Regions from separate parts of the Homo sapiens genome. Here all the other regions are linked to region 1. Evidence: fine-mapped expression QTL. A gene starts in region 1. Each other region holds a variant in brackets. All regions are shown on one strand. Distances are between the middles of the regions. Region 1 holds the start of HAGH (hydroxyacylglutathione hydrolase). Region 2 overlaps MEIOB (meiosis specific with OB-fold). Region 3 overlaps IFT140 (intraflagellar transport 140).

Region 1 (8,177 bases):
GGCTCATGCCTGTAATCCCAGCACTTTGGGACGCCCAGGCGGGTGGATCACTTGAGGTCAGGAGTTCGAGACCAGCTTGACCAACATGGTGAAACCCTGTCTCTACTAAAAATACAAAATTAGCCGGGTGTGGTGGCGTATGCCTGTAATCTGAGCTACTTGGGAGGCTGAGGCAGGAGAATCACTTGAACCTGGGAGGCAGAGGTTGCAGTGAGCCGAGATTGTGCCACTGCACTCCAGCCTGGGCAAAAAGAGTTAAACGCCATCTCAAAAAGAAAAAAGAAAGAAAGAAAAAAAAGAAAATTGTATGGTATGAGCAAACTCTATTTAAAAAATTACAATTATATCCACAGACTTGGAAGAACTTGCAATAAATGCTTAACTTTGGCTGTCTCTGGGTAGATGAAATTTTTGGTGTTTTGTTCTAATTGCTAATCTCTATTTTCTGACTCTTCTGTAATTACATGCATTGCCAAGCAATGAAAAAATAATACTAAAAGTAGTTAAGATAGCATGATACTTAATAAAGAAATCCAATTATGGCACTTCCTCATACTATATTATAATTTAAGCATGGGGTTGCAGCATACCTAAGTGTCTGATTCTTCTTATGTATCTACTTACAAGATGCAGCCTGCATTGTGGTCAAAACTTCACGTTCTGGTCTTGGGGGAGCTGGGTTACATCTCGGCTCTGCCACTAAGCTGAGTGACTTTAGCCAGCCTTCGCAGCCTCTAGATCTGTCTTCATCTGAGTAATGGGGATGGTAGTGATCATACTAAGCTTATGGCTTGGTTGCTGGTTACATAACACGTGGAAATACAGAATAAACTGCTTGGCATGGTGCCTAACAGTACTGTGTTCAATACATGGGGACCGTTACTACTCAATCAGATGTCCTAGGCTTTCTTCAGGGGCCAGCAGATGATGTGAACGCGAACAGGAACCCCTGCCGAAGCCCAAAGGACTCCTCCAGGCATTGACAGCTATGCTGTGCATCTTGCCTGGATGTTTTTTCAGAGGAGGGTGCAGGCAAGAGCAAAAGCAGCAGTCCCAGGCTATTCAACTTCCACAAAGCCTCCTTATCTCCGGTTGGGAAGTACAGTTGCTGATTAACTGTGTTAACACAGCACAGTGCTCAGAAGGCCAAAGGTCAAAGACTAAGGTCTGAAGCCCCACAAGGAGGAAATATCCCTCCTCGTCATTACTGGGGGGAAAAAAATTACCCTTGTAAGCCACTTAGAAGGGAGCACCTTTATTTGGAAAACAGTAATTTCAAAATCATCTCCCGAACTCAGAATCGATGGGTCTGGGTAGATACCCTAAGTAAACAGGTGAAATCTTCATTACTTGTTCACTTATTAAGTAAAATTTTAAATTAACCGATTATGTACAGGAGTGTTTTTCACATTTCCTGATAAGAATCACTTGGAATGCCCTGTAAACACAGCTTCACTGGAGATTAATCCTATCAAATTGATTCAGCAAGTCCGAGATGGGCCAGTAATTTGTGGAGATTTTTATTTTTACAAATGCTTCCTGATGATGACCAAATCTAAGAAAATTTGGTAAACAACGGAAAGTTATCTGGAACATAACTTTCAGTTTTCTCTGCAGTTTTTAAGTGCTGAACTACTGATCATCCTAGAGATAACCCACTGAAAAGTCTTCTCTAATCCAGTTTTACAAAAGGAAAGTCTTTTTAACATTTGGTTTGATAAAATGTTTTCCGAAGAAATACTTTACTTGCCTGTTTTCATTTCTGGCCCACCCGTTCTACTTCACGTTTTCTTGAAGGGTTCATCTTCTATGAGTTGAGGCATAGCAATCTAATCATTTTTAAAATAAATGGTTTCTTTTTTTTTTTTTTTTTTTGAGACGGAGTCTCGCTGTTGCCCAGGAGTACAGTGGCGCAATCTCAGCTCACTGTAAGCTCCGCCTCCCGGGTTCAATTGATTCTCCTGCCTCAGCCTCCAGAGTAGCTGGGACTACAGGCGCCCGCCACCACGCCCGGCTAATTTTTTGTATTTTTAGTAGAGACGGGGTTTCACCCTGTTAGCCAAGATGGTCTGGATCTCCTGACGTCGTGAGCCGCCCGCCTCGGCCTCCCAAAGTGCTGCGATTACAGGCGTGAGCCACCGCGTCCGGCCAATAAATGGTTTCTAATTAAAGGATTGTGACATTTAATAGCCGTTGCTTGCTCTTGTCTTGCTCCCTTCTCTCTCGAAACTTGTTAAGAAATAACTCAATATTCTGGCTTTTCCACTTTAAATGTCATACTGACCAGCCCGTGTATGCCAGCCTCGATCTCATCGTTTTCTTTAACCGGTCCAACTCCCTTTGGCGTCCCAGTCAAGATAATATCTCCTTCTTCCAAGGTTATGATCTTAGAAACATAGCTGATGATGTAGGGGATGGAAAAAATCATGGAGGATGTCTCACCCTCCTGTCTGAGTTCGCCGTTGACCTTGAGCCAGAGCTTCAGCTTGTGAGGGTCAGGGATCTTCTCCTTGGGCACGAACGCGCTGACCGGGCAGGACGCCGTGAAGCTCTTCGCCAGAGTCCAGGGCAGCCCCTTCTTCTTGCACTCGTCCTGCACGTCCCGGGCGGTCATATCCAGGCACAGGGCATAGCCGCCCACGTAGTCCATGGCCGCAGCCTCGGGGACTGCGCGGCAGCGCTTGCCCATCACCACGCCCAGCTCCAGCTCGTGGTGCAGGTTGCGAGTGTACGCGGGCATGAGGATGGGCGAGCCCTCGGGCGCGTAGGCCGTGGACGGCTTCAGGAACAGCACGGGCTCGCTCAACACCGCGCTGCGCATCTCCCTGACGTGGTCCGCGTAGTTCCTCCCCACGCAGACGATGTTCTTTCCCCACTCCCAGAAGCGGGACAATGGCCTGGATGCTGCCATGATTCCCATCAAGTGCCCCTGTAGTCACGTGGGCTGGGCCGGTCAGCTGATGCCTACGGCATCCCGGAGAGGACCAACTGCCTCGGAACGCTGTCCCCCGCAGCGACGGCCCGTTCCACCTCGCGATCTGCCGGGTACCCGGGCGGCGTGGCGCTCGGCCTCCAGGGATCCACTGTGCGGTGCCAAAAAAGAGGCGGAGGCTCGCGGCACAGCTCTCCCGGCGCAGCTCTCGGGCCGCCGCCGCCGCTCCCAGGCCCGTCTCCCGGCCCGTGGCAGTCGGGGCTCGCGGACAAAACAAGTTGAGCGCGAGCGCGTTGATTGGTTGGCGGACGGTGCGAGGTGGACGCTGATTGGCTGAGGGCAGCGCGAGGCGGGCGCTGATTGGCTGCGACGCGCCGACGCCGGTGTTTTGCAGTCCTGGGCAGCTCGGCAGTCCAGCCCGGCCCGGGTCATGGTGGTGGGCCGAGGGCTGCTCGGCCGCCGCAGCCTCGCCGCGCTGGGAGCCGCCTGCGCCCGCCGAGGCCTCGGTGGGTGCGGCGGGGCGGTGCGGGCCGGGGGACGCGGGCCTGGCGGGGCGGGCAGCGGGCGGCGCCGGGCCGTCGTTTGGCGACCGCTGACGCGGTGTCTGTTGCGCAGGTGCCTAAGGCCGCGCTGCCGGGCTCGAGCGGAGGCGGCGCAGGCGCTGAGGCTGGCGCGGAGCGGGCGCGGGGCCGCGGGTGCGGAAAGCGCTAGGTAAGCAGGGCCAGGCCTGCGTCCGCCGCGGCCTCCACGCTCGGGCTGGGCCGGCCGCGCCCCTGACGCCTCCAGGGCATCGCGTCCTGCCCGGGCCGGCGCCGAGGAGAGCCTGGGGCGCGGCTCTGAGGCGCAGCGGGCAGGGCCCCGGGACGCCTGGCCCACCCCGCACCTGCTGCCCCGCTGCAAGGACCGCGGTCTCGCGGCGCCGCCTGCGGTGGTGGAGCTGCCCGCCCGGCGCCGGAGCCCCCGTCTGGGGACCCGGCGTGTCATTCGCCCGAGGTGGTCGCGCGGCCGGGCCAGGCCAGCGCCCCGGGCGGGTGCGCAGCGCAGGGCACTGGGCGGGCGGAGGCGCAGACAGGGAGGCGTCCCTGGCGGTTTCCAGATCTCGCCGAAAGCTGTCAAGGCTCTGCAGGGGGTAGAATGTCGCCATTGCTAAGGAAAGGACATGGATTTTGAGGTCCTCAGAATTACAGTTTTAGGGACATTCATAAGGGTCCAGGCAGAGAGTTCCAGCGGGACTGTGTGCATCGGCAGGGCGTGCGTACCCCATTCTAAGGGAGGCCCCAGCCCCCGTATTTGGTGCCGCCCAGTTCAAGGGAAGCAAGATGCTGTGAAACTTCCTGATTTAAAAAAGAAGTGCAGTGACGCACGCCTGTCATCCCAGCACTTTGGGAGGCCGAGGCGGGAGGATCGCTTGAGTCCAGGAGTTCCAGACCAGCCTGGCAACATGTTGAGACCTCATCGCTACAAAAACTAAACAAAATCAGCCGGGCGTGGTGGCACACAACTGTAGTCTCAGTCACTTTGGAGGCTGAGGTGGGAGGATCGCTTGAGTCCAGGAGGTCGAGGCTGCAGTGACCCTTGATCGCACCACTGCACTGTAGCCTAGGGGACAGAGTGAGACCATATCTCAATTTTTTTTTGTTTTTGGGGCCAAACCGAACATGTTTCTGGACTTGGTCCAGGCCCCAGGCTGCAGGTCCTTGACCTGTTTGTACAAAGTATTACAGTTACAAAACAGCAAGCCGGGAACATTTGCCAGGCAGTGCTGGGCTGAGTGATATGGAAAGGGAATACGGTTTCTGCTGGTGTTGGCACCAGCTGCGTCTTTCCTCAGAAATAAAGGCACCTCCCTGGGTTGTCAGCTTCTTCAGGAGGCTGTGATGGTCTCCAGGGGAGGCTGAGCACCAGTTGTAAATGACATTTTCTTCGCCTGGGCAGTGCAGTGGCCAATCTCGGCTCACTGCAACCTCTGCCTCCCGGGCTCAAGCGAGTCTCCTGCCTCAGCCTCCTGAGTAGCTGGGACTACAGGCGCTCGCCACCACGCCCAGCTAATTTTTGTATTTTTTAGTAGAGACAGGGTTTCACCATATTGGTCAGGCTGGTCTCGAACTCCTGACCCCGCGATCCGCCCGCCTCGGCCTCCCAAAGTGCTGGGATGACAGGCGTGAGCCACCGCACGTGGGCAGTATTTTTGTTTGTAATGTTCTGCTCCTTGTTTGTAATGGAGCTCCTTTCCAGGAGGACGCCCGGCACTCGGAATCCTGTCACAACCCTTCTGCACCCCACCTGCAGCCCCCAGCACCCACACTCTGCTTGTTGTGCTCCTTGGGCTGGGGTGGTGCTGAGGCTAAGGGGAAGGGGAATAACACAGGAAGCTGCTCATATAGAAATCTTGGTATTATTGTTCCTGAGGAGAATGATCTGGAAAATGCCCAGCTGGTTGTCAGGCGGGTAATAGGATATCTTTGTGCAGTGATTGAAACTATAGTTTGGGCAGTTTCCCCGGCTGTGGAAATAAGGTCGGATTCCGCATTTCGGTGGGCCCTGGAGACGCGTGTGTCTGTCAGTTGGTGGCTGCTGCCCATTTCTGGATCCCTTTTGGGAGAAGCCCCTGCCGTGGCACCTACCCCAGGACTGCACTGTCCTCTGCCACCTTCTGTGGTTTCTTCCCCGTGTAGAGCGGAACTGAAGGTATTGTCGGGGCCCCCAGGTATTTTTAGATTTAGTAGGAGTTTCATTGCTGAAAATATTTTTGCATTGGTCGACTGGGTGGCAGACACTTTTGTCCCTTGGTCACCCACTCCTCCCAGCTCTTGGGCCTTCTGGGCCCCTGTGGCAGAGTCCTTTGGGTCAGTTGGATGGTGGTTTTGTGTCCTCCACACTTGAATCTGGGGGCAGTTGTGGCCAACTTTCCGTCTCAAAGGAACTGCTGATTTTTGTGCATATCTCAGATTCGTGCTGTTCAAGAGCAAGTATTGTTTGTTTGTTTTTTTTTTTTTTTGAGACTGTCTCACTCTGTTGCCCAGGCTGGAGTGCAGTAGGGCGATCTTGGCTCACTGAAACTTTCACCTCCCGGATTCAAGCAATTCTCCTGCCTCAGCCTGCCGTCAAGTATTGGTTCTTTCTGGCTAGAGGCTGAGAAGGGCTGTAACTGCATGGAACGCAGGCTCGCTTAGTCAGTGGTGGCAGCACAGCTTGCTGGAGGGCAGATGGCCAGGCGGGGGCACCCCTAGTCTGTGTTCCCTTCTTCACATTCTGTCCCTGAGTCCGGGGTGTGAATAATCCAGCACTGGCAGTGGTTCGCCTCACAATCACAAGCTGGCCTTCCTGTCCTTTTAGAGTTCTCAAAAAAGAAAATAGAGATCGTAAGTCTGAAACAATTGATTTCCATGAATGTGAGCATGAGTTAGTTCCTGTGTTCTCCTCAGGGATATATGAAGATATTCCTTTTTTTTTTTTTTTTTTTTTTTTTTTTTAAGGAACAGGTTATTGTCTTGTCACCCAGGCTGGAGTGCAGTGGCACAGTCATAGCTCACTGCAGCCTCAAACTCCTGGGCTCAAGTGATCCTCCTGCCTCAGCCTCCGGAGTAGCTGGGACCACAGGCATGCACCACCATGCCTGGCTAATTTTTAAATTTGCAAAGACAAGGTCTTGGCTGGTCGCGGTGGCTCACACCTGTCATCCCAGCACTTTGGGAGGCCGAGGTGGGCGGATCACAAGGTCAGGAGATCGAGACCATCCTGGCTAACACCATGAAACCCGTCTCTACTAAAAAATACAAAAAATTAGCCGGGTATGGTGGCGGGCGTCTGTAGTCCCAGCTACTCAGGAGGCTGAGACAGGAGAACGGCGTGAACCTGGGAGGCGGAGCTTGCAGTGAGCCGAGATCGCGCCACTGCACTCCAGCCTGGGCGACAGAGCGAGACTCCGTCTCAAAAAAAAAAGAAAAAAAAAAAGACAAGGTCTTGCTATGTTGCCCAGGCTGGTCTCAAACTCCTGCCCTCAAGCAGTCCTCCCATCTCAGTCTCTTAAAGCGCTGGGATTCCCGGCAAGAACCACCATACCTGGCCAGAATATTCCTTTTCAAAGGAACCTAGAAAGGCTGGGAAGCACTGCAGCTTGCGCGTCCTGTCGTGGAGGGCCTGGCGCGGCTGCCCGCTGAGTTGTGCTCTGTGTCTGCAGGTCCAGCCCTGCTGGGAGTTTTCTGCCACACAGATTTGCGGAAGAACCTGACCGTGGACGAGGGCACCATGAAGGTAGAGGTGCTGCCTGCCCTGACCGACAACTACATGTACCTGGTCATTGATGATGAGACCAAGGAGGCTGCCATTGTGGATCCGGTGCAGCCCCAGAAGGTGCGCATGGCTGTGCCTGGCTCTCCCTGCCCTGGTCACCCAGCTCGGAGTCCTCACCCCCGATGGGTTTCCTAACCGCAGTGTCCTTGCAACTTTGCCTAAGCTAAATGGAAATTAGTCTCCGGCCACTCTGTTAACAGGGCTCCAAGAAGGGTGGAGGCGAGAGGCAGTGACACAGAAAGCGCTGTGCAGTACAATCCTGGGCACTTGAGTCTTCTTGGGGGCTTTCTGCCCCTGCATGCTGCCTCTGGGGGTGGTGCCCTCAGAGCTGGAGGGGCTTGGAGCGGTCGTAGGTGGTTGCAAGAGTGTCAGGCTGAGCAGGAAGGAGAAGGTGCTTTCACTGGCTCTCCTGGAGCAGGGCAAGCTGGCAGGGTCAGGACGGGCCATGTCAGCGGCCCCTCATGGCGTGTCCTGGGTTCTGCTGGGCACCCTACCATATAGGCCAGCAAGCCAGGCCTAGGAGTGTGACAGGCCTTTGTCCTTCCCCGGGGCCACTGCAGGTCGTGGACGCGGCGAGAAAGCACGGGGTGAAACTGACCACAGTGCTCACCACCCACCACCACTGGTAAGTGCCGCGTCTCACCTGGGGGTGTGGGACCTGGCTCACTTCTCGCCCCGGTGGGTTTAGGGACATCAAGGCCTGTCTCCCCCCACGGCTCTGTCTGCTTTGTGAGGACAAGCCCCCAGCAGACTTCTGAGAAAGACCCGGGACTCACCGTAGCCCCCAAGGGGCAAGTCTGGTGCTCAGTGACTCTGAGGCCCCGAGGGTGAGGGGAGAAGGTTACAGCCTTACCCTCAGGCCCCACCCCCCGGCTCTCTCCTGGGCCATGCGGGTTTGTGCCCTGGCACGTTGGCCTCAATGTTGGGGAGGAAATGAGTCTACAGGTGAGTG
Region 2 (8,177 bases), 34 kb before region 1:
CCCAGCCAGGTTGTAATTTTTAATTAGCAAAACCAATATGAAATTTCTATTTTGGAAAAAAAGTATTTGCTGACCCCTAGTGGTCCTCATTAAGTAGCACATAATTTGTTTTGAAATAACTTATTTTAATTATTTTTAAAATTTATTTTTTTTTTTTTTGAGACAGGGTCTCACTCTGTTCTTCCCCACCTCTACTAAAAAACCTTGTCTCATCAGGCACGGTGGCTCATGCCAGCACTTTGGGAGGCTGAGGCAGGCAGATCACGAGGTCAGGAGTTCGAGACCAGCATGGCCAACATGGTGAAACCCCGTCTCTACTAAAAGTACAAAATTAGCCAGGCATGGTGGCAGGCGCCTGTAGTCCCAGCTACTTGGGAGGGTGAGGCAGGAGAATTGCTTGAACCCAGGAGGCAGAGGTTGCTGTGAGCTGAGATCGCGCCATTGCACTCCAGCCTGGGTAACAAGAGCGAAACTCCGTCTCAAAAACAAACAAAAACGAAACCCGTTTTTACTAAAAAAAAAACAAAAAACAAAAATTAGCCTGGCATGGTGGTGTGCGTCTGTAGCCCCAGCTGCTCAGGAGGCTGAGTCCCAGCTGCTGGGAGGCAGGGGTTGCAGTGAGCCGAGAGATCGCGTCACTGAACTCCAGCCTGGGTGTACATTTCATGAACACCCTGAACTCATTCTTCCCAGGCTGGAGTGCAGTGGTGCATTCAAAGCTCACCGCACACTTAAACTGGGCTCAAGCAACCTTTCCTCCTCAGCCTCCCAAGTAGCTGAGACTAAAGATGAGTGCCACCACTAATTTTAAAATTTTCTGTAGAGATGGTGTCCTTCTATGTTGCCCAGGCTGGTTTTGAACTCCAGGCCTCAAGTGATTCTCCTACCTCACCTCCCAAAGTCCTGGGATCACAGGGGTAAGCTGTTGTGCCTGGCCAATTTTTATTTTTATTTTATTATTATTTATTTATTTATTTTTGAGACAAGAGTTTTTCTCTTGTCACCCAGGCTGGATCTCGGCTCACTGCAACCTCCGCCTCCTGGGTTCAAGCGATTCTCCTGCCTCAGCCTCCCGAGTAGCTGGGATTACAGGCGCCCACCACCACGCCTGGCTAAGTTTTGTATTTTTAGCAGAGACAGGGTTTCACCATGTTGGCCAGACTGGTCTTGAACTAACCTCAGGTGATCCACCCGCCTCGGGCTCCCAAAGTGTTAGGATTACAGGCGTGAGCCATTGCGCCCGGCCTATTTTTACTTTTATTTTTGGGACGGGGTCTTGCTCTGTTGCCCAGGCTGGAGAGCAGTGGGGCAATCACAGTTCGCTGAAGCCTTGAACTTTTGGGCTTAAGCAGTCATTCTGCTTCATCCTCCTAAGTAGCTGGGACTGAAATAACTATTTAGATCTGAATTATGACTTAGGTTGAAACAACAGTAAGAGAGAAAAGGAGAACCTAAGGTAATACCTGGATGGCTCAAGTTTACATGTTTTTCCCTCCAAATACACAGATCACCAGGGAAGGGAGCAAGGGGGCAACCTGTTACCACTTCAGCTTGAAATTCATAGAAGCATGTTATAGAATATACATCTGAAAGAACATTTTGTACTATGTATTTGAGTATTTTTATTATCATAATCAATAGTTATTTGATTAAACAAATAATCATTTGTTTATAATTGAAATGAAACTTTTCATGTAACACTTATCAAAAGGCAGAGAAGCGATTGAAACTCTTCATTTGAAAAATAAAAGCATTGGTTTTCCCTTAGATATTGGATCAGAAAGGTACACTTTCAGCTTCACCATTCGGGATTCACCAGCACATTTTGTAAATGCAGCTTCCTGGGGCAATGAAGATTACATCAAGTCTCTTTCTGACAGCTTTAGGGTTGGTGACTGTGGTAAGTTGGCATTGATTCTTAAACTTTTTCCATCATAGTGTTATTCCTGTGGTATGTTTATGGTAACTATACTGAAGGAGTTGAAATGAGACACAGTTCGTAATTCTCAAGAACTTTATCAGAAAAAGTCAAGTGTTAAGAGTATAATGCAGTGGGGCACGGTGGCTCATGCCTGTAATCCCAACACTTTGGGAGGCTGAGGTGGGTGGATTGCGTGAGTTCAGGAGTTCGAGACCAGCCTGAGCAACATGGCAAGACCCCATTTCTACAAAAAATTAGCTGGGTGTGGTGGCGTGGGCCTGTAGTACCAGCTACTAAGGAGGCTGAAGCAGGAGGGTGGCTTGAGCCCTGGAGGTGGAGGTTGCAGCGAGCCAACATCGTACCTCTGCACTCCAGCCTGAGTCACAGAGTAAGACCCTGTCTCAAAAAAAAAAAAAAAAAAAAAAAAAGACTGCAATGCGAGGCATTCAGAATGTTATTTGAAGCATACAAATGTGATAGTTATATTTTTACTAAATAACCTTACTGTCTTTGGTTTATTACATATTTCAATTTGCACCAACCCATTTTATTGTTATAATTGGTTATCTTTCTATAGACATATAATACAGCCACTGAATATATTTTGATAAAAGTTGACATTTGACCACTGAATAGATTTTGATAAAAACTGATATTTAAATTGTTAATGGGATTTTAAGGAACTTTACTTTTAGTTGAAATACCAAATCTTTTACATCTACTCACCCCAGTATCTCTTTGACAGAACAGCCTCATATAGTAGGAAGAACAGGAGACTTTGAAAACACAGAGGTCTAGATTCAAATCCCAGTTCCAACATTGACTTACATCATGGCTTTGAGAAAATTTCTTAATCTTGTTGGGTCTCAACTATGAAATAATACCTCATTAGGTTCTTGTAAATATTAAATGAGATGGTGTACCTAGTATAACGTGTGGAACTTAGTCACTCAACAGATAACTTTTATGAGCCCTAGCCTCATAAAAGGAACAAGAAAGCATGTATACTAGTTCTTCACGATAGAAAAAGAGAAAAGAGTAATGCAGGTAATGAAAACACTCCTCTTTAATACTGTGGTCTCAAGCAGCTGACTCCCCATACCGGTTATTTAGAACCTAATCATATATTGCCTTGTATTGTTAACTTTCAGGACAATGTATGGTATCTCTCTAGTTGAATAATAGGGTCATTGAACATATGGACTATGAAGGCAGAAAGCTTCACAAACTTCATAGGGCCCAGTATAGCTATAGACATCCCTTGAATAAATGCTGGAATATTAGTTACATATGGAGATAAAGATTTCAATTTTGACATCTCAGTATCAAAATATGTTATATGTTGATGATGGAGAAGATGAATGAGGTGAGGAATTTTTAAAGCCTAGAGTCGATGATGATCATAAATTAAACAGGATGTTATTTAGGATGTTAGTGTTTATCTTGTTACTGTTTTGTAATATCATCATACTTTGCCCTCTGTTTTAGTGATAATTGAAAATCCTCTGATCCAAAGAAAGGAAATAGAAAGAGAAGAAAAATTCAGCCCTGCAACTCCTAGGTAAGCATCTGTCTAGCACAGAGATTGTGCGAGAATGATCATTACTAATAATGTTGTATCAGATTAGCAGAGATCTTACTAAAAGTGTTCTGTTTCTATTTCAATAAAAATGAGGAGTTTAATTTTCTCTTACAAAATTCATCTTTGATTATGACATAATTTACTTTGATACAGAGTCACATGATAAATGGCTTTGGTTTTAGTACTTTGATTCTCATTCTTAGATTTACAAAAATTTGACTTTGTCATGTTAAAACTGAATGAGGAGAAAAGATAAACTTTGGAAATTACATCTGTCTTTTTTCATGTCAAGGTATCCTTCTACTCACAGGCTTACCATCTTAGGGCAGATTCCTTCGAAGCAGAGCTTGAGAGGAGGACTCTTGTGGGAGTGGTTGGTTGAGGGTGAGCTCTCAGGGGAACCCTGCGAGGATAGACCAGGAAGCAGCTGAGCAGAGAAGTGGGTTCACCTGGAGCCTCAGCAGGAGCCGGGAGGGAGCTCTGGAGTGGGAGTGGCCCCTTAGAGCAGTGCCCTGGCTGTAGTCCATCCACTCCCCAAACCCGCAGGATGGGGCGGGGCATCAGCTCAAAGGCGGGTCTGGCAGTTCTGGAGAGAAGGGTGTAGCTGTGCCCTGTACCAGCCTGTAAAGGGCTCTTGGTGGGCACAGCAGTCTACAGCATTTACACTCGCATCAACTGTGACCCGTTCCCACCTTCTTTTCTGACCTCATCTTATGCCAGACTCTCAAGCCTCATTTCTCTGTAGCCACAGTGAATTTCTTTATATTTCATGAACACCGTGAACTCATTCTGCACTAAGAACGTTTGTATTTCCTTTTATTTTTATTTTTTATTTTTTACTGAGACAGAGTCCCACTCTGTTGCCCAGGCTGGAGTGCAGTGGCACGATCTCGGCTCACTGTAACCTCTAACTCCTGGGTTCAAACCATTCTCCCACCTCAGCCTCCCAAGTAGCTGTGATTACAGGCACACGCCCCACACCCAGCTAATTTTTGTATTTTTAGTAGAGGCGGGGTTTTGCTATGTTGGCCAGGCTGGTGTCGAACTCCTGACCTCAAGTGATCCGCCCGCCTCGGCCTCCCAAAGGGCTGGGATTACAGGCGTGAGCCACCGCGCCTGGCCAAACTTTTGTATTTTCTATTCTCTCTCTGCATAGAACTTTCTCCCATCTGTTTGACTATTTGCTTCTTTGGGTTATTGACTCACAGCTTAAATGTCATCTTCTTCAACCTTCCCCATCTACTCTGTTTGTGGTAGCGCTAATGGTCAATTACTGGGATTTTGCCCTGGCTTTTGTCA[G/C]CATAACCCAAGTCACCGTCTGAGATTGTTTGATTCATTGTTCTTGGGTCTCCCCCTCACATATGTGAGCCTCATGAGATCAAAGGTCTTGTCTGCCTTCTTCACCACCATATCCCTTGTGCCTAGCATAGGGTCTGGTATATAACAGATTCTCAGTATTCATGGAAGTGATGGATGGATGGTTAGATGGAGAGAATATTCTTGGTAGAGGGAAGAAACAGGAAACCTCCTGTCTTTTCCAGAACAGTTAATATTAGTTTGAGCCATATGAAACTGCTGATGTTTTACTATTTTTCATCTAGAAATACCAATTTCATAATGTAATAGTCTGATACGGCTGGAATGCAGGGCACGGGCAGGAGGAGAAGCTTAAGGTGGAAGCAGAGATATTTTACAGACAGCTTTGCTTTCATACTGAGTTATTTCCTTTGTGACTGGTAGCCACAATGATGGTCTTTGAGCTGGGAAATAATATTTTCATATTTGTGGTTTAGGAAGATCACTTTGCTTATGGAGGATGGACTGTAGGGGAATGAAGCTTAGTTAGGATAGCAAGGCAGTGGCTTGGGAGAGAAGTGATGAGGTAGGTAAGTGAGGCCGAGCAGTGGGGAGGAGGTGGGGCTGGGTTAGAGGACTGCTGGGGCACAGAGTGCAAGGGCCGGGAGGGACTCGGTGCAGGAGGGAGAGCTCCTCAGTTCGGGCTCACTGTGCCAGTGTTCTGCGTCTGCTCCATGCAGAGCTCAGTAGGGGTAGGAAAAACACAGTCCCTGACCTGAGGCACTAAGGCAGAACAGCCAGGTCCATAAGAGAGAGAAACAACCAGTCCTTGGGTTTGTATAACCCCTGAAAGTTTCAGAGCGCTTTTTTGCTCCTATTTTTTTGGAGAAGGAAACAAGCGCAGAGTCTTGGGCAAGATCAGACAAATGGTATGTTTAGAACCCCGACACGAATCAATTCTCAAAACATTTCCTTAATGAAAGTGCACTGTAAACAAAAAATGTTTTGCTGTATTATTCAATGTTTCTAAGAGTAAAAAGTATATATTAGTATTGTCTAAATTTCAATGAAAAATGTAGTTTAAATGTGGACCTGGAAATATTTTTCTTTCCAAAGATCACTTTCAAATAACTTTCTTGTGTTTTTGCAATTTAGCAACTGTAAACTGTTGCTCAGTGAGAATCACTCAACAGTAAAAGTTTGTTCCAGTTATGAAGTGGACACAAAGTTACTTTCTTTGATACATTTACCTGTTAAAGAGTCTCATGATTATTATTCACTGGGTGACATTGTTGCAAATGGACACAGTCTTAATGGGAGGATTATTAACGTGCTTGCAGCTGTGAAATCGGTAAGTTAAAACCCCGACAAAGCCAAGTGCAATCTGGCAGGGGAGGTGCAGTCACTTGATCTGTGTTTGGGATGGAGTGGTCACGATCAGCTGGGGTAACTTTTCTTCTCTATCTTGGTAGTATGCTGAATTAAGAAAACAGTAACACTTCTCATTAAAGGGAAACTAGCTTTTTATCTGTGGATGAGTAGTAAAATAAAATTGTATTTGAATGCTAAATGCAGTGTTCCACTCTGCTCGTAAATGATCTGCTAACTATAGGAGAACTTTTTATACATTGCTTAAACAAAGATGTAAATGGAAAGGGTAAGCTTATTGACTCGAAAATCTCCATGACCTTCCTTGAAGGGGCGTAGTTGAATAAGTTAAGGGATCAGTTCTGTGCCTTTGTGCTCAGAGCTGCCCAGCAACCAGGGAGGGAGTGGGAATACACGCTGCCCTGCTGTAGGGCTCCATGGTCTAATAGGTGCAGTGGGACCATGCTGGTGAGGTGCACGGGAGGATGGCCCTCCGTGGGGCACCAGGGGGGTGTTCCCTTCTGGTGCATCAGCGTCTGTCTGAATTACTGTAGCAAGTTCTGAGCTCTGTAGTTGGACAGACCAGAGCCACAAGGCGGAGATTGAGATGTAGACCTCAACGGTAAAGTTTCACAAAATAAAGTACATGAAAATTAGTCCAGGCACAGTGGCTTACACCTGTGATCCTAGCACTTTGGGAGACCAAGGCAGAGGGATCACTTGAGCCCAGTTCAAGACCAGCCTGGGGCAACATGGTGAAACTCCATCTCTACAAAAAATACAAAAATTAGCCGGATGTGGTGGTGTGTACCTGTAATCTCAGCTGCTTGGGAGGCTGAAGTGGGAGGATCACCTGAGCCTGGGAGGTTGAGGTTGCAGTGAGCCAAAATCATGCCACTGCACTCCAGCCTGGGCAATAGAGGGAGACCCTGTCTCAAAAAAAAAAAAAAAAAAAAAAGGCCTGGCGTGGTGGCTCATGCCTGTAATCCTAGCACTTTGGGAGGCTGAGGCGGGTGGATCACAAGGTCAGGAGTTCGAGACCAGCCTGGCCAATATGGTGAAACACCATCGCCACTAAAAATACAAAAATTAGCTGGGTGGCCTGGTGCGGTGGCTCACGCCTGTAATCCCAGCACTTTGGGTGGCTGAGGCGGGAGGATCACGAGGTCAGGAGATCGAGACCATCCTGGCTAACACGGTGAAACCCCGTCTCTACTAAAAATACAAAAAATTAGCCAGGTGAGGTGGTGGGCGCCTGTAGTCCCAGCTACTCAGGAGGCTGAGGCAGGAGAATGGCGTGAACCCGGGAGGCAGAGCTTGCAGTGAGCCAAGATTGCGCCACTGCACTCCAGCCTGGGCGACAGAGCGAGACTCCGACTCAAAAAAAAAAAAAAATTAGCTGGGCATGGTGACAGGTTCCTGCAGTCCCAGCTACTTGGGAGGCTGAGTCAGGAGAATCACTTGAACCTGGAAGGTGGAGGTTGCAGTGAGCCGAGATCGTACCACTGCCCTCCAGTCTGGGCGACAGAACGAGACTCCGTCTCAAAAAAAAAAAATTAGCTGGGCATGGTGGCAGGTACCTGGAGTCCCAGCTACTCAGGAGGCTGAGGCAGGAGAATTACTTGAACCCAGGAGACAGAGGTTGCAATGAGCTGAGATGGCGCCACTGCACTCCAGCCTGGGCGACAGAGCGAGATTCTGGGTTGATAAATAAATAAATAAAGAGGCAAGAGTAATTTCTTAATATAGAGAGGGATGATAGTCAAGAGACAAAAAAAAAAAAAAAGGAAAAAACACACATGCTTATGATAGTTCATGTAAGTAAATGTGAATTGCTTGTTATATTAAATGGTGACTGAGAGAACGTGACCCTTTCAGATGGCAGGGCCCTGGCTGTGGAGGACATGCCTGCCACCTGGGGAGCATCTGTATACTTTAGGGAGAAGGAATAAGCCCGCTATATGATCATCTTGAAAAACAGGAGAAGTCACTTTGTAGGCAGTTTATGTT
Region 3 (8,177 bases), 250 kb after region 1:
CTACATAGCCGGAGCAGGAGGAAGAGAGAGCGAAGCGGGAGGGGCCACACTCTAAACAGCCAGATTTCGTCAGATCTCTATCACAGAACACACTAGGAAACTGTGAGAAACCACCCCCATGATCCAGTCGCCTCCCCCCAGGCCCCACCTCCAACATTGGAGATTACAATTCATCGTGAGATTTGGGTGGGGACACAGAACCAAACCATATCACCTCGCTAGATGGGATTTCCCGCGTCAGGTGCTTGATGGTGAAAATGAATCCTAGGACAGCTGTTTAATCTGTGGCTGTCACTTCAGAAATCGGGAGACAAGGCAAGGACCTTTTGCAGTGAAAAGGATGACTTTGCAGGACTTTGAATACACGGGGCTATGAAAAGAAAATAAATCCTTGCTGGGCTTAACGTGCACCCTGACGGCTGGCTGGGTGGCTCCAGTTCAGGACATAATGTCCTTAGCCAGGCTGTCTCCCGCATGTGTCTTGTGGGAGGGCCAGGGCGACCTCTAAGAGGTTCTCTTTTTTTTTTTTTTTTTGAGATGGAGTCTTGCTTTGTCGCCCAGGCTGGAGTACAGTGGCGTGATCTCAGCTCGCTGCAATCTCCGCCTCCCAGGTACAAGCGATTCTCCTGCCTCAGCCTCCTGAGTAGCTAGGACTACAGGTGTGCGCCACCACACCCAACTAATTTTGTATTTTTGGTAGAAACAGGGTTTCACCATGTTGGCCAGGCTGATCTCGAACTCCTGACCTCGTGATCTGCCTACCTTGGCCTCCCAAAGTGCTGGGATTACAGGCGTGAGCCACCACGCCTGGCCAGGAGGTTCCCTTCTGAGTAAAGTCAGGCATCCACTGCCCCGTCTGCATCCCACACACACTGGCTGGAACCTGGGGGCAGACACAGTGTGTTGATTTCCTGTGGCTGCCCTAACAAATTACCACAAACCGAGGGGCTTCCGACACAGACATTTTTTCTCTCACAGTTCTGGAAGCCAGAAGTCTGCAATCCAGGTGCTGTCCAGGCTGGTGCCTTCTGGAGGCTCTGAGGGTGAGCCTCCAGCTCTTCCACCTTGCCTCTTCCAGCATGAGGTGGCGCTGGCAGGCTTTGCTGTTCCTTGGCTTGTGCACTTGACCTTGAACCACAAGGTCTGAACTGCAGGGGCCACTTAGATGCACATTTCTTCTGGTTCTGCCACCCCGAGACACCAAGATCAGCAACCTCCTCTGCCTGTTCAGTGTGAAGATGATGAGGATGAAGAGCTCGATAATGACCCACTTCCACCTCACAAATAGTAAACATATTTTCCCTTCCTTACGATTTTCTTAATAACATTTTCCTTTTCTGGGTGACTTTATTGTGAGAAAAACAGTATATGATACATACAACATATACATATGTGTCAATCAACTGCTTACGTTATTGGTAAGTCTTGTTGTCAACAATAGGCTGTTACTAGTTAACGTTTTGGGGAAGTCAAAAGTTATATAAAGGCCGAGCGCTGTAACTCACATCTGTAATCTGAGCACTTTGGGGAGGGCGAGGTGGGAGGACCACTTGAACCCAGCGGTTTGAAACCAGCCTGGGCCGCATATTGAGACCCATCTGTTAAAGAACAAAAAAAAATTGGCTGAGTGTGGTGGCGCACGCCTATAGTGCCAGCTACTCAGGAGACTGAGGCAGGAGGGTGGCTTGAGCCTGGGCAGTCAAGGCTTCGGTAAGCTATGATTGCACCACTGTCCTCCAGCCTGGGCAACGGAGCCCAGCTAATGTTTGTATTTCTTTTTAGTAGAGACGGGGTTTCACCACATTGGCTAGGCTGGTCTTGAACTCCTGACCTCGTGATCCACCCACCTTTGCCTCCCAAAGTGCTGGGATTACAGGCGTGAGCCACCACGCCCGGCCATGTCTTTTTTTTTTTTTTTTAAGGGACAGGATCTCACTATGTCACCCAGGCTGGACTTGAACTCCTGGCTCCAGTGATTGTCCTGCCTTAGCCCTGCAAGCATCTGGGACTACAGGTCTGAGTGGACATATCTTTGGGAGGGGCACCATTCAGCCCACTGTGTGCAGCAAGGTTCTGTGACCAGGTTGAGAGCTTTTGTCACGAGCCTGATTTTAGCTATCGTTGTGATTTTTATCCATCTCCAAGTTCCTTCTTGGGACCCAGCGTCTGATTGCCTGGGGCGGCCACATTCCTGTCCTTGTACCTTACATGGTGCTTGTGTGCTCCCATCATGGATTGTCAATTCTCGTTGGCATCCAGACGGGAGACAAGTCAGCGATAAGTGCCAAGGAGAAGACGGAAGCGGGTGGGCCCCTCTGTGTAGGACTTCTGTCTGAATCAGGTGGAGGGAAGACATGGGGAGGAGCCGCATGGCTGCAGTGCCAGCTGGGAGAGAAGTACGGGCAGAGGGAGCTGCCGCGACCACATGTTTTCCTGCAGCCTGTTGGGTGCGAGGGGAGGCAGTAAAGCTGGAAGGGAGTAGTTGAGAGCCTTCTGGGCATCCCAAGCCCAGAGCAAGCACACTTGTTGCTGCCATCCCTGCCCACCCCTCCGTCTTTTTACCTATGCCTCTCTGACTCCTCCCATTGCATGTGGGCATCTGTTGTGGACATAAAGGGAGGTACAGCAAGGCTTTTTTTTTTAAGTTGGGGTTCTGCTTTTTTTACCCAGGCTGGAGTGCAGTGGCACAATCTCAGCTCACTGCAACCTCCGCCTCTGGGACTCGAGCAATTCTCCTGCCTCAGCCTCCCTAGTAGCTGGGATTACAGGTGCCCGCCACCACGCCCGGCTAATTTTTTGTATTTTTGGTAGAGACGGGATTTCACCATGTTGGCCAGCCTAGTCTCGAACTCCTGACCTCAGGTGATCCACCTGCCTCAGCCTCCCAAAGTGCCGGCCCGGCCAGGCTGTGTTCTTAAGGACAGATGAGGGGCAGCTGCTTAGACGACCCTTGAACAATGCAGGGGTAGGGGCGCCAACCACCTGAGCAGTTGAAAATCCCCATATAACTGTTGACTCTGCCAGAATTGCAGTACTCGCAGCCTACCATTGACTGGAAGCCTCACCAACAAC[A/G]TGAACAGTCGATTAACACATATTTCATATGTTCTATGTATTACATAGTGCATTCTTACAGTAAAGTAAGCTAGAGGAAAGAAAATGCTACTAAGAAATCATGAGGAAGAGAAATACATTCATAGTACTGTACTGTGTTTATCGATACCCTAAGTCTATAGGATGAATCATCTTTCTGAAATGGTGGCATCCACAGGTGGCGTCCACATCTGCAGACCTGAATCTACTGTCCATATCAAGCAATTCCACGTTTTCTTGTAATGTCACGGCTTTCCCTTGCTTCTCGGGAGCACTTCCAGCATCACTAGTGGCATGTCACATGGGTCCCCCTGGGGTTATTCACCTTTTACAGTATTGCACGAAATGCATGAAAAATCCTCTAGAACCGTGAGAGGTCACTTTTTAATGTGATGTGCATTTTGCTGGAGAGAGGAGCTGCCCACTCGGAGGTGATTAGCACTGCACAACATTTTAAGGGGATCTTCGAAACACTTGAGTGAAACTGAGCACAGTGGCAACAGGAGGCAGCTGTGAAATGCCGACAGGAGCACGATGTGGGCCACAGCTCCCTGTCTGCAGTTATGATTGCAGATCGCATCTTTCTGTTGGTTTACACTTCGCTCAGCTGCACATAGTGCCATCTCTGGAAGCATGTGCACATTTGTGTATACTTTATGGACGTGGCTGATAAAAGACTAGTATCTACCTATATTTTATGCATACGCGACATACCTGTTAATTTTTTTGTTCTTTCTAGGCTACATAGTTTGTCTGAGTTTTTTCAAATTGTTACAAATCTCCAAAAAAAAGTCAAAATTTGTTTTTTTTTTTTTTGAGACGAAGTTTCCCTCTGTCACCCAGGCTGGAGTGGAGTGGTGCGATCTCGGCTCACTGCAAGCTCCGCCTCCTGGGTTCACGCCATTCTCTTGCTTCAGCCTCCCGAGTAGCTGGGACTACAGGCGCCCACCACCACGCCCAGCTATTTTTTTTGTATTTTTAGTAGAGACAGGGTTTCACCGTGTTAGCCAGGATGGTCTCGATCTCTTGACCTCATGATCTGCCCGCCTCGGCCTCCCAAAGTGCTAGGATTACAATCATGAGCCACTGCACCCGGCCATACTTTTTTTTTTTTTTTTTTTAAAGACAGAGTCTCACTCTGTTGCCCAGTCTAGAGTGCAGTGGCATGATCTCGGCTCACTGCAACCTCCACCTCCCAGGTTCAAGCAGTTCTCCTTTCTCAGCCTCCCGAGTAGCTGGGATTACAGGCATGTGCCACCACACCTGGCTAGTTTTTGTATTTTTAGTAGAGATGGGGTTTCACCATATTGGTCAGACTGGTCTCAAACTTCTGACCTCAGGTGATCCACCCGCCTCAGTCTCCCAAAGTGCTGGGATTACAGGTGTGAGCCACTGCGCCTGGCCTTTAAATATCTTTATTGAAAAAAGAAGTTCATGTAAGTGGGCCCTTGAAAATCAGACCTGTGTTGTTCAAGACCTGTGTTTGCCAAGAAAAGACCTCCAGAGGTGGGGCTGTGCAGGCACCAGTGGCCTGCAGGGAGAGGGCCAGTGGCATGATGGGAAAGGGTGAATGGGCTTCTGGGAGAGGGCCAGTGGCATGATGGGAAAGAGTGAATGGCCTGCTAGGAGAGGGTCAGTGGTGTGATGGGAAAGGGTGAATGGCCTGCTGGGAGAGGCCAGTGGCATGATGGGAAAGGGTGAATGGCCTGCTGGGAGAACACTAGTGGCATGATGGGAAATAACAGTGGGCCCACTGAGAAGTCCTACTTGTAGAGCTTGGGAAGATACCTAACAACAGTTGCCATGGAGTTGGGTCCTTTTATTCCTCTGTTAATTTTTTATTTTATTTTATTTTCAGAAACAGGGTCTCACTTTGTTGCCCAGGCTGCACTGCAGTGGCAATCATAGCTCACTGCAGTCTTGACCTCCTGGGCTCAAGCGATCCTCCCACCTCAGCCTCCTGAGCGTGGGACCATAGGTATGCACCACCATGCCTGGCTACTTTTTTATTTTCATTTTTATTTATTTTTTTACAGATAAGATCTCATCCTGTCGCCCAGGCTAGAGTGCAGTGGTGCCATCATAGCTCACTGCAGCCTCAAACTCCTGGGGTCAATTCATCCTCCTGCCTCAGCCTCCCAAGTAGCTGGGACCACAGGTGCCAATCACCATGCCTGGCTAATTTTGTTATTATTATTATTATATTTTTGTAGACATGGGGTCTCACTATGTTGCCCAGGCTGGTCTTGAACCAAGCTGAAGTGACCCTCCTGCCTCAGCCTCCCAAAGTGTTGGGATTAGAGGTGTGAGCCACCATGCCTGGCCACTAATTTATTAAGTTACAAAAGGAATACATGTCAGTTGTAACTAGTAAGGTGGCTCTGGCGTGAGTAAGGGTGGGTTAGTGATCCCTCATGACCCTTCTTGGACACCCAGCATGTCCTTCCAGGTCACTATCCCTCCTCAGGATGCAGATGCATGGCTGCTGTTAGTGTTTGTGTCAGGGACGCAGTGACTACAGACACTTAGGAGCTTCCAGTCCTTAAAAGGACAGCTTCCTAGGCCAGAACTTTGGGGCCCCAGCCCTGCGTATGTTTCAGGGAGTCACATCTGCCCCATGGAGAACCTGAGGGAGGGGCCTCCCATGCAAAGGTCAAGTGCCATGGAAGGGGGTGGGATATGGGACCAGTTGGTGGTGGGAGGTGGGAAGGGAGGCAGGAGGGCTGGTCACCCTGAGGGCAGTTGGGGTTGAAGCTAGGAGTGACAGGGTACATTTTGTTGACCAAAAAGAGACTGAAGCACAAAATGTGATTTAAACAGTCTACTTGGCTGGGCATGGTGGCTCATGACGGTAATCCCAGCACTTTGGGAGGCCCAGGTGGGAGGATTGCTTTAGCCCAGGAGTTCCAGACCAGCCTGGGCAACATAGTGAGACCTCGTCTCTGCAAAAAAATACAAAAATATTAGCCAGGCATGGTGGCAAACCTATGGTCCCAGCTACTTGGGAGGCTTAGGTGGGACAATTACCTGAGCCTAGGGAGGTTGAGGTTGTAGTGAGCTGTGGTTGTACAACTACACTCCAGCCTGGGCAACAGAGTGAGACACTGTCTCAAAAATAAATAAGTAATTAAGTGAGTAGTCTACCTGAGCCAGGATAAAGGCAGCTGCCCAGAAAACTCAGCCCCGAGGAACACTGGGCCTGGGCTCCATTTTACGTTTGTTACAGGCAGGTTTTTAAGGCCGAAAAGAGGGACCGGGCACAGGCTAATGTCAGGTTGTTGGTCAGGAATCCTCTTTGGTTGATGGAAATGCCATTGATTAGCAATGGGCTGAGCATTGGTGCAGGTATGGTCTGCGGCAGCTTATCAGGTTAGTTCTCAGCTACCTGTGGCGGCAGCAGGCAGTTTCCAGAGAAGAACACAGCTCAAGGGAGAGCAGGGCGTGGCTGCTGCCTCATTTAAGGTCTCTGGGGGCCTGATCCCTGAAAAGGACTTACCTTCCTCTGATAACAGTTCTTTCCTTTCCCCAATTTTGACTTATTTTCTTGGCTTTGTGTTATTTTCTCCCTAGAAAGTAACTTCTGTGCCAGCGTAGTGGGGAGCCAAGCTTAAGGGTGGAGAAGAGTGAAGTTGTGGGAGACGCCGCAGGAGAGCAGCTCAGCCTGGCCCCAGGCAGCAGCCACCAGCAGAGCTGGAGTGGAGGGGCACTGTGGCTCTTATAAGGGGGGTGACTAGTTGCATGATGGGTGGCTACAGAGAGTATAGAACTGAGGATGTTCTGAGTTTTCTAGCCTGAGAGGTTGGGTTTGTCGTGGCACCTTTAAGACAGGAACTCCAGAGGCAGAGCTGGCATAGGGGGCAGGGCAGGATGCAAGTTCGAGTTCGTGGTGCCTTGGAGAGCCCTTAGGGGTGTCTAAGAGACAGTTGGAAATACAAGCTCTGGAGGTCAGGAGCTGGGTCAGTGCCCTGAAGACAGTACTTTGGGAGTTGGGAATGTATTGACATAGAGATGTTAAAGAATGTAAAAGAGTTGAGCTCAGATCTGAACCCGGGACCCAGCAGGTAAGGGGCAGGGCAGGGAGTGAGCTCACCGAGGAGCCTCCAGTGCTCTCTGTCATCATTAATAGTGTCAGCCCTGGCCCCATCAGCTAGTCCGCTCCCCCTGCTCTTTTTATCCTGTGTTCAAGCAGCCACTTGCTCATTCCATAAGCATTTATTAGGCTCCCACTGGATACATCAAAATGAAGTGAGCTTCCTCAGCTTGGAATACTCCCACCCTGACTCCAGCCATCCGTCCCTCACCCTCAGTTTCCTAAACACACTGTGCAGGCTCCTGCCCCTTTGCTGGCTTTTGGAGTCTGTGTTTAGATTTCCGTGCCCACTAAGTTCTCCTGGAGCTCTGCCCACCTTCCAGCCTGCCTTGCCACTCAGATTCTGTGCAGCTCCCATGCACTAGATCTGTGCCTTCCCTGCTGCCTGTCTTGGCCCCAGGATGCATTCAGCCGTTCGCATCTGACTCGCTGCCCCCACGTGGAGTGCCCTGGGGATGTGCCACTCACTTGTGATGCTCCTCCCCCAACCCACTGCTGGGCAGGGTGTAGGCATTCACTGGGCATTGGTTGAATTGAGCCAAGAGCTTCGCTTTGAAACTCAGAGGATTAAGGTTAGTCCCTAAAAGACACACCACAAAGCATGAGGTCTGCTCCAGCGCAACTGTGGGGTGACTGTGGGGTATATGCTTTCTTTTTTGTTGTTGTTTCTTTGAGATGGAGTCTTGCTCTGTCGCCCAGGCTGGAGTGCAGTGGCATGTTCTCGGCTCACTGCAAGCTCCACCTCCCGGGTCCACACCATTCTCCTGCCTCAGCCTCCCGAGTAGCTGGGACTACAGGCACCCACCGCCACACCCGGCTAATTTTTTGTATTTTTAGTAGAGACGGGGTTTCACCGTGTTAGCCTGGATGGTCTCGATCTCCTGACCTCATGATCCACGCGCCTTGGCCTCCCAAAGTGCTGGGATTACAGGCGTGAGCCACCGCGCCCGGCCTGTGGGGCATGCTTTCTAACGTGCCGACTGTGGGACGTGCTTTC

Evidence for each region. PIP is the estimated chance that this variant, and not a neighbour inherited with it, causes the effect.
Region 2: its variant is fine-mapped to the expression of HAGH in cerebellum (GTEx, PIP above 0.99).
Region 3: its variant is fine-mapped to the expression of HAGH in whole blood (TOPMed, PIP above 0.99).

Annotation. Positions count from the first base shown.
Region 1 is chr16:1,821,973-1,830,149 of GRCh38, reverse strand. HAGH (hydroxyacylglutathione hydrolase) reads left to right here and starts at 3,325. Exons shown (of 9, transcript NM_005326.6): 1 at 3,325-3,438; 2 at 7,113-7,285; 3 at 7,786-7,850. The coding sequence starts at 3,363. It overlaps FAHD1 (fumarylacetoacetate hydrolase domain containing 1), which reads right to left and starts at 2,944. Exons shown (of 1, transcript NM_031208.4): 1 at 1,240-2,944. The coding sequence starts at 2,911. The coding sequence ends at 2,246. RefSeq lists enhancers at 2,725-2,914, 6,179-6,248 and a silencer at 3,005-3,974.
Region 2 is chr16:1,855,708-1,863,884 of GRCh38, reverse strand. It overlaps MEIOB (meiosis specific with OB-fold), which reads left to right. Exons shown (of 14, transcript NM_001163560.3): 4 at 1,769-1,900; 5 at 3,410-3,482; 6 at 5,955-6,150. Among named protein-coding and RNA genes, the nearest start is that of MEIOB, 12 kb to the left of the region's middle. The variant G/C (reference allele first, on the strand shown) is at 4,803.
Region 3 is chr16:1,572,321-1,580,497 of GRCh38, reverse strand. All of the region lies in intron 13 of IFT140 (intraflagellar transport 140), which reads left to right. Among named protein-coding and RNA genes, the nearest start is that of IFT140, 36 kb to the left of the region's middle. The variant A/G (reference allele first, on the strand shown) is at 3,073.